Linked DNA regions of Homo sapiens. The protein of the gene in region 1 interacts with the protein of each later gene in a pairwise test. Each region holds a gene or a part of one and is shown in the gene's direction. Other genes may lie near its edges. The genes, in order: CPEB2, SPARC and ATG2A.

The links.
Region 2: the proteins of CPEB2 (region 1) and SPARC interact in a two-hybrid assay, tested with the Homo sapiens proteins (one study listed by BioGRID).
Region 3: the proteins of CPEB2 (region 1) and ATG2A interact in a two-hybrid assay, tested with the Homo sapiens proteins (one study listed by BioGRID).

What each region holds. Positions count from the first base shown.
Region 1 is NC_000004.12:15,005,363-15,009,110, forward strand, and holds part of CPEB2 (cytoplasmic polyadenylation element-binding protein 2), read left to right. Parts: intron 1-1,108; exon of another isoform or gene 1,109-1,208; intron 1,209-1,942; coding exon 1,943-2,224; coding exon of another isoform or gene 2,225-2,233; intron 2,234-2,975; coding exon 2,976-3,065; intron 3,066-3,748. UniProt on the Homo sapiens protein: May play a role in translational regulation of stored mRNAs in transcriptionally inactive haploid spermatids. Binds to poly(U) RNA oligomers. Required for cell cycle progression, specifically for the transition from metaphase to anaphase.
Region 2 is NC_000005.10:151,666,168-151,669,915, reverse strand, and holds part of SPARC (SPARC isoform 1 precursor), read left to right. Parts: intron 1-131; coding exon 132-252; intron 253-2,315; coding exon 2,316-2,449; intron 2,450-3,406; coding exon 3,407-3,555; intron 3,556-3,748.
Region 3 is NC_000011.10:64,896,603-64,900,350, reverse strand, and holds part of ATG2A (autophagy-related protein 2 homolog A), read left to right. Parts: intron 1-1,508; coding exon 1,509-1,715; intron 1,716-1,913; exon of another isoform or gene 1,914-1,988; coding exon 1,989-2,090; intron 2,091-2,180; coding exon 2,181-2,265; intron 2,266-2,376; coding exon 2,377-2,512; intron 2,513-2,607; coding exon 2,608-2,680; intron 2,681-2,856; coding exon 2,857-2,939; intron 2,940-3,481; coding exon 3,482-3,603; intron 3,604-3,734; coding exon 3,735-3,748. UniProt on the Homo sapiens protein: Lipid transfer protein involved in autophagosome assembly. Tethers the edge of the isolation membrane (IM) to the endoplasmic reticulum (ER) and mediates direct lipid transfer from ER to IM for IM expansion.

The sequences.
Region 1 (3,748 bases):
CGTGTGTATTTTAAGTAGGTAATATTGTGAAATGACACTGGGCAGAATTTTTATTTTCCGGATCTTTTTTGATTCAAGATCTTTTTTGTTATTCCCTCAATACAATTTTTGGGTGACCGCTAGATTGGTAAATTGGCATTGAAAGAGTGTCTTGTTGGTTTTGAATCTTGTTAGCATTTGTTGCAGAGTTCATTCTGTTTAAGTCCATTTTCTATTTTCGTGATTAAGGATTGACAGAGACGCAAAATATGACCTTAACCCCATAACTTTTTCAGTTGACCAAAGTTTTCAAGGATTAGTCTTTTTAAAGTGAATATTATCTAAATTAACCCAAGTGAAAGTTAACAGTTTATCTAAGTTAACCAAAGTGACAGTGAACAGTTTTTGTTGAATCACTGATTTCTTTCTTAGAAAAGAGAATGTGGCCTATGAGGATTGAAAATAGGGATTTTGAAATAATGTTCCACTTTTTCATGATTTTTATAACCCTCAGCAACTGTCTTTTGTGTCTCAGGATCTTCATTTTGTTATCTGGAAACTTGCCCACAGAAAATTATCTGTAGGTAATTTTGTATTTACTTAAAGTTGTGGTACAGAGCGTTGGAAGAACATATACCATGATCCATATTTAACTGTAATTTGCTTTTGGACAAAAGATGGGTCTAGCCATGGAGTGTGAGAGGTCACACAGCTTTCATATGGAATTTTAGATCACTGGAAGATAACTTTGAGCATTAAATCATTTAATAAGGAGAGTAAGGCCCTCAAGAATGAAGTGGTTTGTCCATGGCTCTGTAATTATGCTTTGGACCTCTGTGGAAGAGGAAAGAGTAATAATATACTCATGATTATGTTAGCATTTAAAAGTGTTTAAAAATTGGTGCTGTAGATCAGGAGTTTCTCTTTTAATTGTCTTACAAAAAGCAGGTTCAATTTTAAGAGAACCATATTTATTTGTAGTAACTGTATGGTTCATACTTCTTTAGCTACATCTTAACACCAAAGTATTAAAGTATAAACTTACTGACAGTAGAATTACCAGCAATGAATACTTCTTAAAAAAAAAAAAAACCCAAAACTACAATTATTAGCGTTTTGATGGATTTACCATTCTTTGATGATTTGACTTGTCTTGCCACAGGTTTGAGATTAGGATGTAATTTACTTTTGAAAATGAATCAACTTGATGGAGACTTGTATCAAGATCTCTAGTGGAATAATCAAAGCATATAGTTAATTAGCAGTATACCTCAGTGGATCCACCTATGGGCAACATCAGATAATTGCTTCACAGTTTATGGATAATTAAGTGAAATAAAAACAATTAAGACAAACTATGCTAAAACTGGAATAAAATGCCTTAACAGTTAAATAAACAATGCAGAAAAATGACATAGTTTCTATACTGTCCTTATTTCAAAAGGCGATTTTAATTTGTACAAGAGTAATTCCCACTTTTGTAGTAGTGCAACTTGTTTTGGAAACATAAAGTCTATATATTTCACTTGTATGAGTAGGATATTTTAATTAACAAAGACCATATTTTTAGTTGTGTGCCTAGCATAATTAATATGGTTGCTTTAAGATCACCATGTATGTTATATCTTTAAGAATCTTCAGAGTTAATTTCAATTTTTTTCTTCATATTTATCATGTATACAGTTATCTCTGAAGGATAAAAAGGAACTGCATGGTTCTATTTTAGTAACTGTCATAAAATATCATGATATTTATAGTATACAAGAAGATGAAAACTTGACCAGCATCAAATATGATTTCACATAGAAAGATCTCAAGACTGTTACTTTTATAACCTAGAAAAGATGTATTCTTTTGCCTTTATATATTTCATTCATATAAATTCTTAGGTCTGAAATTTGAATTTGAATTTGAATTGTAAATTCTTTAAATGCCGCAATTTAAATAGCTATGTTTTCCCTAGCCTCTTCTGAAACAGTCTCCCTGGAGCAACCATCAGAGCAGTGGCTGGGGCACTGGAAGTATGTCCTGGGGAGCAATGCATGGCAGAGATCATCGTAGAACCGGAAACATGGGAATCCCAGGAACTATGAATCAGATATCTCCATTGAAGAAACCGTTTTCTGGTAATGTCATAGCACCACCGAAATTTACTCGCTCAACTCCATCACTGACTCCAAAATCTTGGATTGAAGATAATGTGTTCAGAACAGACAACAATAGTAATACACTCTTACCCTTACAGGTAAGAATGGTATGTAAATGACCTTATCTCTAATGTTAATCTTTCAAAATAGGGAGTTGGGTGGTGGTGGTAGTGGTATGCTAAAATTAACATTTTTTGAAATAAAGTTTTAATTTTTAAGCATGTAATTTAATTAACAAAGGTTAAAATATCTATACAGAGAAAATTGAGAATGTAAAATAATTCTCTAAACACGCAATGGAAAATAAGCTTAGTAAAACGTAGAAAAACCTTTTGTATTTATTAAATACATACTGAAGCTTTCAATTAGCAGCTCTTTAAGAATGCTTTAATTTATAAATTCTAATGGGCCACCAAAATTTGTTTCTCCTTTAATATAGCTAAGCTAATATGTTCTGTAATTGTAACTGTTCTTAGAATTGACTATAATTGGCTGTATATATATTAGAATATACTTAGTACAGCTGTGATTGTGGCAAAATAATATTAGGGCTTTTTTGCATCTAATTTAAATTTATCTTCACTAATTCACCGATTATTTTTTCTAAATGTGGCCTAATACGTTGATTAGACTTTTTTTTTCTTTCAGTATTTTTATTATTTTCTTGAAGTTCCCTTATGGCTATTGCAAGTGAGGTTTTTGTTTTGTTTTGTTTTTTTCTTAAACCTTTAGAGGATGGAATGAGGATTTAAGATAGAGCTTTATTTTTTGTTTTCTTTCTTTCTTTCGTTGGGTGGGTATGGGGAAGACAACTGCTCATTTCTGATGAAAACTTCTATGCTATTGAAGGTGAGATCTAGTTTGCAGTTGCCAGCTTGGGGCTCAGATTCACTCCAAGATAGTTGGTGCACTGCAGCCGGAACATCCAGAATAGACCAGGTAGGCTGCACAGTGTATACTTTTTAGGATTTCGGTTAGGAGTTTAGTATTTATATTATGAGTAGGATTTATTATTTACTTTCTTATTATACCTATTGAAACATATGTTAGAGGACACTGAAGCAATTTATTTTTTAAGGATCACCTGCTTTGAACTATTTAATGTAAGAAATTTTTTATTTTCAAATTTAAGAGTAATCCTTTTATAATTCTAAAACATAATAAACTTTTTTTGGAAAAAGGAATTATATACACAAGAGCACCTGACTTTAAACATCAGTCAAACTAAGCAGATTGTATCTCTTTTCAGAATTAAATGCAATTAGGTACAAAATCATATGTTTACTTAACATCTAGCTTTATATTTGATGTTTCATAGAACTTTTCAGTAAATTTTTGTCATGAAGTCTGTATTTGTTTTGAGATATATTTCTAAAAAAGACTTCTCTTGGTTCAGTTTTTTCACCTTTATTAAAAAATATATAGCCTAGTATTCTAAATTTTGTTACTGCTTTTATACCCTGACTTATTCCAAATAATCAGTTTCCTATGGAGAAACCGTTAGTCAAAAAGCTGGGAGTTAGCCTTAATCAAATTACATTTACACCTTTGGTGGTTACAAAATGCTATCTTTCTTCCTGCAAACTGAATTTGAATGTATACTAGGTACCAGGTGGTGAGGA
Region 2 (3,748 bases), on another chromosome or scaffold:
CTATATGACCTCAGGCTAATGACATTCCTTGCTTAACCCTCAGTGTCCCCATCTCTGAAATGGACAAGGATATTGGTATCAGCGAAGGGCTTTGGGAATGAAGGAGGGGGTACTCTGTGCTTTGCCAACAGGTGTGCAGCAATGACAACAAGACCTTCGACTCTTCCTGCCACTTCTTTGCCACAAAGTGCACCCTGGAGGGCACCAAGAAGGGCCACAAGCTCCACCTGGACTACATCGGGCCTTGCAAATGTGAGTGTCCTTGGGCCCTTCCAGACTCCTGTCTTGGGGAGAGAGCTCTGAGCTGGCACTGATGCTGTCTCTGCCACCCCCATGCTGGGTGATCTTGGGCAAATCTCTCTCCCTTTCTGAGTCTCGGCATCCCCATTTATAAAATGAGGTAATTGTCTATGAGTTGGCTCCTCTCAACTCTGAGTTCAGGGCACTTTCTGGGGAAGGACTGAGCGATTATGGAAGGTCAACATCAGGGAAGATTTCTGGAGTCTCTCACTAGCATCTGAGACAACTGCATTTCATTTCTCTAATGAGGAAGAATTTCTTCTCTCAGGCTAAGTTGAATCTTTCTTGCTTCAACACTGTAAAGCAAAAATGATGTTTGACCTGGGCCTACAAAATATTTTGAAAATATCTGATTTTGAATGCTTTAAAATAAGGGCATGCCTGTCGGTTTGCTTTGGGCCCTGTTACTTGGTACTGTCATATCTTCACCCTTTTACTCCATTACATTCCTATCTGCCCTCCGAAGAGAGAGGATAAGCACCCTCTTCTGGAAACCTGGGAGTCAGTTGTCTGGGGAGGGATGCCAGGGTGTGGTCTGATCTTTGGTTAGTGACCCCAGCTGCAAACTCAGTGGGGCCAAGTGCCTTGTTCAGTATCCTCCCTATCATGGGAGACCCCCAAGACCACACCTGCTCCCCCTCCAAGGCAACATCCACACTGTGGGTCTTGTGTATTCTGGCACCCGATGGCAATGAGGAGAGCCACTCACCTACCTCAGGTGTACAGGGTGCAGAAAAGTATGTAGGGGGTGGGAAACAAAGTTCTCCTCGTGGGACCCCAGGTATGAAATTGAGAAGGTACAGAGTAGAAAAGGAGGGTTGGGGGAAGAAGCATGGGTAGGAAGTCCCTGGGCAGCAAGACTAGAGAGCCTGTCTTAAGGAGTCTTTATGAAGTGGCTTTGCTTTCCCTGAGGCATGTTGCCCACTCACTTCAACTCCTAAGGTTTTTATCACCAGATATTCTCTCCCAGACCCCAGCTGATGATGAAGGTAGCCTCACAGAGGGGACTTTCCCTGGTTCAATGATGAGGGAAGAACAGACCCCTAAGCCCCCAGGTGACCACACTGCCCTGGATGCTGGATGAGGCTCTGACATTGTGGCCTTGAGCAAGTCCCTTCTCTCCATGCTGACCTCTAATAAGTCCAGTACAAAGTGTGAACCTGGGTCAGGCGCGGTGGCTCACGCCTGTAATCCCAGCACTTTGGGAGGCCGAGTAGGGAGGATCACTTGAGCTCAGGAGTTCGAGACCAGTCTGGGCAACGTGGCAAAACCTTGTCTCTGGAAAATATACAAAAATTAGCTGGGTATGGTGGCATGTGCCTGTAGTCCCAGCTACTCAGGAGGCTGAGGAGGGAGGATTGGTTGAGTCCAGGAGGCTGAGGCTGCAGTGAGCCGTGATTGTGCCACTGCACTCCAGCCTGGGCAACAGAGTGAGACCCTGTCTAAAAAAAAAAAAAAGAAGAAAAAAAGAAAAAAGAAAAGAAAAGGAAAAGAAAAGTGTGGACTTGGATGAAATCTTCAGGTCCAACATTTGGGATTCTAAGTTCCAAAGACCAGGTTGGAATCATTTCTAAGAAGGTTCTGGTGGTTACACATTCCTGAGTCCTCTACTCCCCACTCCCTGCCAAGCTGGGCCTGTGGATAGATGTGATCCCTCAGCCTCCCAGCTTCAAACACCTGCCAGTGGTTGACGTGAACAACATGGGCTCAGTCTCAGCTAGGATCACACCCAAAGCCCAGCACCCAGTAAGGTGCAGGAGCCATCCATTTCCCTGAGCAGAGCAGATTAGGCTGAGGAAAGCAGCAGCCATGCCTTTGCACAATGCATTTCTAGGGCATTCTTCCCACACATAATCTCCTCTGCTCATTGTCCTGTGAAGAAACTGTGGCCTGGAGAGGTTGAGCCACTGTGCCAAGGCCACCAATGCAGGTGGTATGTGGGTGGGTGGGGGCCTGGGGTGGGGAGCACGGCCCAGGCAGGGTCTGTGCTGACCGCCCTTGTGTTTGGAACCTAGACATCCCCCCTTGCCTGGACTCTGAGCTGACCGAATTCCCCCTGCGCATGCGGGACTGGCTCAAGAACGTCCTGGTCACCCTGTATGAGAGGGATGAGGACAACAACCTTCTGACTGAGAAGCAGAAGCTGCGGGTAAGTGGTCTCTCTGGCCTTGCTGGCCCCGTGCTGGTGAAGATCCAGTCCCATTCCTAGAACTGGGCCCCCAGCTGCAGGGCGGCATCCTGCTCCGGAGCGTGCATTTACCCCTGAGCACCAGGACACGTACTTCTCTTCCTGCCTTTGGAGGCTGTGGTGCACATTAACATCTTAGAGGCTCTGAGAAGTCCTGCAGCAGAGACCTGCTCCCTTTGCTTAACCTAACGTTAAACAAAAGAGACACAAACAGCCCTATTCCTTTTTCCTTTGGAGTCTGTGGATCTTAAGCTTTAATGAGCATATTAACTACCCCAAGAAGCTGATAAAATGCAGATTCCTTGGCCCCATCTCAGGCCACTGAAACAGTGTCTCTAGAAAGCAAGGCCCAGGAAGCTGCATTCTAAATACTCCCCAGGTGATTTATGTTTATTTTATTTTTTTGAGGCAAAGTCTCACTCTGTTGCCAGGCTGGAGTGCAGTGGTGCGATCTCGGTTCACTGCAACCTCCACCTCCTGGGTTCAAGTGATTCCCCTGCCTCAGCCTCCTGAGTAGCTGGGACTGCAGGCATGCTACCACACCTGGCTAATTTTTGTATTTTTAGTAGAGATGGAGTTTCACTGTGTTGGCCAGGCTGGTCTCAAAACTCCTGGCCTCAGGTGATCTGCCTGCCTCAGCCTCCCAAAGCGCTGGGATTACAGGTGTGAGTGTGTGCCCGGCCTTCGCCAGGTGATTTTGATGTGGGTAGCTATATGGAGAATTCTTTGAGGTCATCCCAGGCTTCTATTTTTGTGAATGAGATGCTAGTACCCATCTATGACACCTCCCTCCCCTCGCTGTGAGCTTTGGTCTGGCTAGTCTCTGCCTGCTCTGGCCTTCTGGGAGGGGTGGGAGGGCCCGACTGGTCCAGACAATCTCCATGGACCTCTTGTCACACACAGTCTCTACTCCCTCAGGTGAAGAAGATCCATGAGAATGAGAAGCGCCTGGAGGCAGGAGACCACCCCGTGGAGCTGCTGGCCCGGGACTTCGAGAAGAACTATAACATGTACATCTTCCCTGTACACTGGCAGTTCGGCCAGCTGGACCAGCACCCCATTGACGGGTAAGACCCCAGACCCTAGAGTGAACAGAGCTCAAGGCTGGCAGGTGCACTAGCTATGGCCAGAAAGCCTCTCAGCAGCCTATACTGCTCCAAGCCCTGGCATCCACAGTTTGCCTGGGGATTGGAGCAGAAGGATGAGGCATCTGGAGAAAAGATGTGGACCTGGGACAAAGAAACCGATAAGACACTCTCA
Region 3 (3,748 bases), on another chromosome or scaffold:
CGAGTGTGTCCGATGGTGAAGAGCGCTCAGGGGAGAGTCTGCAGGGGTGGAGGAGACAGGTGTGCTGGGGAGGGTCTGGAAAGTCCTCTTCTGAAGGCACCATTTGAACAAAGACCTGAACAAGTGGGGATGTGAGCCAGGAAGAGTTTTCAGGCAGAGAGGACAGCGTGAAAGCCGCAAATTGGGGCCAGGCATGGTGGCTTATGCCTGTAATCCCAGCACTTTGGAAGGCCGAAGAGAGCAGATCACCTGAGCTCAGGAGTTTGAGACCAGCCTGGGCAACATGGCGAAACCCCATTTCTACCAAAAAAAAAAAAAAAAAAAATTAACCATTTGCAGTGGTGTGTGCCTATAGTCCCAGCTACTCAGGAGGCTGAGGCAGGAGAGTTGTTTGAGCCCAAGAGGCAGAGGTTGCAGTGAGTTGAGATCGCCCTATTGCATTCCAGCCTGGGCAACAGAGTAAGACTCTGTTTCAAAAAAAAAAAAAAATGCTGGAAGCTGGAAGCATCCTGACATTTCCAGGAGCAGCAGAGCCTGTGCATAACCAGCGACCCAGAATGTTTCTTTTGAGTCTTACAAGAGACGAACCCCTCAGGGCTTTTGAGGAGAGGCCTCTGTGGGGTGGGGCTCTGCAGCAATCAGGGAGGGCTAGTGAGCAGGTTCAGGAGAGCCTAGATGGGGGCTGGCCACAGGTTCAGCTGCGGATGGGGTGTGTGAGATACAGAGAGTGGTACAGAGGGTTCAAGGTTTGGGCCTGGGAAATTGCCTGGGGCAGGGGGGTCCCACTTGCTCAGAGTGAGCCAGGCCAGTGCTGGGCTTCCCAAGGAGCCGCTAGAGGCAAAGGGCAGAGGGGCCTCAGGCTGCTCGGGTTGGTGGGCTGTGCTGCAAGAACCTGCGGGAGATGAGTGTCAGAGCAGGGGGCCAGGGGCCTCTCTGAGACCTGATGGCCAGCCAGCGGGTGTGCAGGAAGAGGGGGAAGGAAGGCTCTCCACGGAGAGGGGCTACGAGAGCAAAGTCCTGAAGGCAAAACAGGCCTGGACTCCTTGAGGGGCAGAGACCAGTGCAGCTGGCATGGGAAGCAAGAGCAGGGTCAGGTCTGGAGGGAGAGGCAGGTCCCTGCTGGGCATAGAATAGAGAAGGGGTAGGGGCCGGGCATGGTGGCTCATGCCTGTAGTCCCAGCACTTTGGGAGGACGAGGCAGGCAGATCACTTGAGGCCAGGAGTTCGAGACCAGCCTGGCCAACGTTGTGAAACCCTGTCTCTACTAAAATTAGCTGGGTGTGGTGGCACATGCCTGCAATCCCAGCTACTGGGGAAGCTGAGGCAGGAGAATCGCTTGAACCCGAGAGGCAGAGGTTGCAGTGAGCCGAGATCACGCCACTGCACTCCAACCTGGGCGACAGAGTGAGACTCTGTCTCAAAAAAAGAATAGAGAAGGGGTCTGGGGCCAGCCCTTCCCTCCCTCTTGGGGCCCTGCTTACCTGGCCAGGCCTCTGTCCACCCCACAGGTAAGCTTCCAGCACGAGGTGTACCCAGCGGAGCCAGCCACAGGCCCTGCGGCCCCCAGCCAGGAGCTGGAGGAGCGACCGCTGTCCCGTCAGGTGTTCATCGTGCAGGAGCTGGAGGTCCGAGACCGGCTCGCCTCCTCCCAGATCAACAAGTTCCTGTACCTACACACGAGTGAGCGGATGCCGCGACGTGCCCACTCTAACATGGTATGAGCGACCTGCACCATCCACCCTGGGGCAGGGCACCAGACCGTTGGGGATACATCTTCACGCATGCATGGATTCACACACATACACGCATTCCCACACAAACACCCAGGTTGTTTGTGAGCCTGGGAGAAGGGCAGAGCTAGGGGCTGTGTTAGCGAAGGGAACAGCGTGTTCAGAGGCAGGGTGGCTGGGTGAGCTGTCAGGGAACAGCTGGGTGAGCTGCTGCCCCAGAGGCCCAGCAGGTGTCCAGAACTCACCCTCTGCTCCCAGCTCACCATCAAAGCGCTGCATGTGGCCCCCACTACCAACCTGGGTGGGCCTGAGTGCTGTCTCCGCGTCTCGCTGATGCCCCTGCGGCTCAATGTGGACCAGGTGAGTGGTCTACGTGAGGGCAGAGCCTAGGGTGACCCCACTGTCTCCAGGCCTCTGAGTCTGATCCACATCTGGACCTCTCCCTTGCAGGATGCCCTCTTCTTCCTCAAGGACTTCTTCACTAGTCTGGTGGCCGGCATCAACCCCGTGGTCCCAGGGGAGACCTCCGCTGAGGGTGAGAGGCTGGGCCAGGGAGGGGAGCGTCTGGGCCTTCTGCCTCCCAGGACAGCACAGGTTCCCAGTCATTCCTGGCCCCATCCCCAGTCTGTGACCTCCCCTCCCCTAGCTCGCCCCGAGACTCGAGCCCAGCCCAGCAGCCCCCTGGAAGGGCAGGCCGAAGGCGTAGAGACCACTGGTTCGCAGGAGGCCCCAGGAGGTGGACACAGCCCCTCCCCTCCTGACCAGCAGCCCATCTACTTCAGGTAGGCTGCTGGACTGCGGGTGGGGGGCCCTGGGCCAGATTGCTGGGGGCCAGGCCAGTGAGCAAAGAACCCCCTCTTCCTGCTCCCCTACCCAGAGAGTTCCGCTTCACGTCTGAGGTCCCCATCTGGCTGGATTACCATGGCAAGCACGTCACGATGGACCAGGTGGTAAGTGGGGCGGTCGGATGGGGTGGCCATGTGGGGTCAGCTGTGGCTGAGTCCCTCTGGGGGCCAGGTCTTGCATCCAGGCACTGTTAGCAGCCAGGGCGCTCTCCAGTGGCTCCCATGGGCTAGCTAGCTCCCTGAGTCCCATTGGGTAAACCTGGACCCCCTCCCTCTCCCAGGGCACTTTTGCTGGCCTCCTCATCGGCCTGGCCCAACTCAACTGCTCCGAGCTGAAGCTAAAGCGGCTCTGTTGCAGGCACGGGTGAGTCCCCAGCACCCCAGCCTCTCTCCAGGGTCCCTGATCTTCCTTCTGTTCTGGTCCTGACTGGTTGTGTGGCCTTGGCCAAGTCATCACCCTTCTCAGGGCCTCAGTTTCTCCTCTGTAAAAAGGACGCAGTTGGCTGGGCATGATGGCTCACACATTCAGGCATTCGAGACCAGCCTGACCAACATGGTGAAACCCCCCCGTCTCTACTAAAAATACAAAAATTAGCCAGGCGTGGTGGCATACACATGTAATCCCAGCTACTCAGGAGGCTGAGGCAGGAGAACTGCTTGAACCTGGGAGGCGGTTGCAGTGAGCCAAGATCGCACCACTTCACTCCAGCCTGGGCAACGGAGCAAGACTCCATCTAAAAAAAAAAAAAAAGGACACAGTCCCTCTGCACATGACTGGGTGGGACCACAGGGAGGGTAGAGTGCCCACAGTACTTGCCACAGGGGTACTGAGTCCTCCTGACCCCACAATCCCTCCATGTGTGGCTCTGCCTCACCTTCTGCCTCCTCACCTCCCTGCCCTGCCAGGCTCCTGGGTGTGGACAAGGTGCTGGGCTATGCCCTCAACGAGTGGCTGCAGGACATCCGCAAGAACCAGCTGCCCGGCCTGCTGGGAGGCGTGGGCCCCATGCACTCGGTTGTCCAGCTCTGTGAGTGTCTAGGTTTGGAAGCCCTCGAAACTGCTTTTACCCTTGGGCAACCTAGAAGCTGCCATTGGGAATAAGAGGAGGAGGTGGGGGCAGGGCAGCCTCGGGTGTCTCTGAGCGCTCCTTCCCCCTAGTCCAAGGGTTCCGG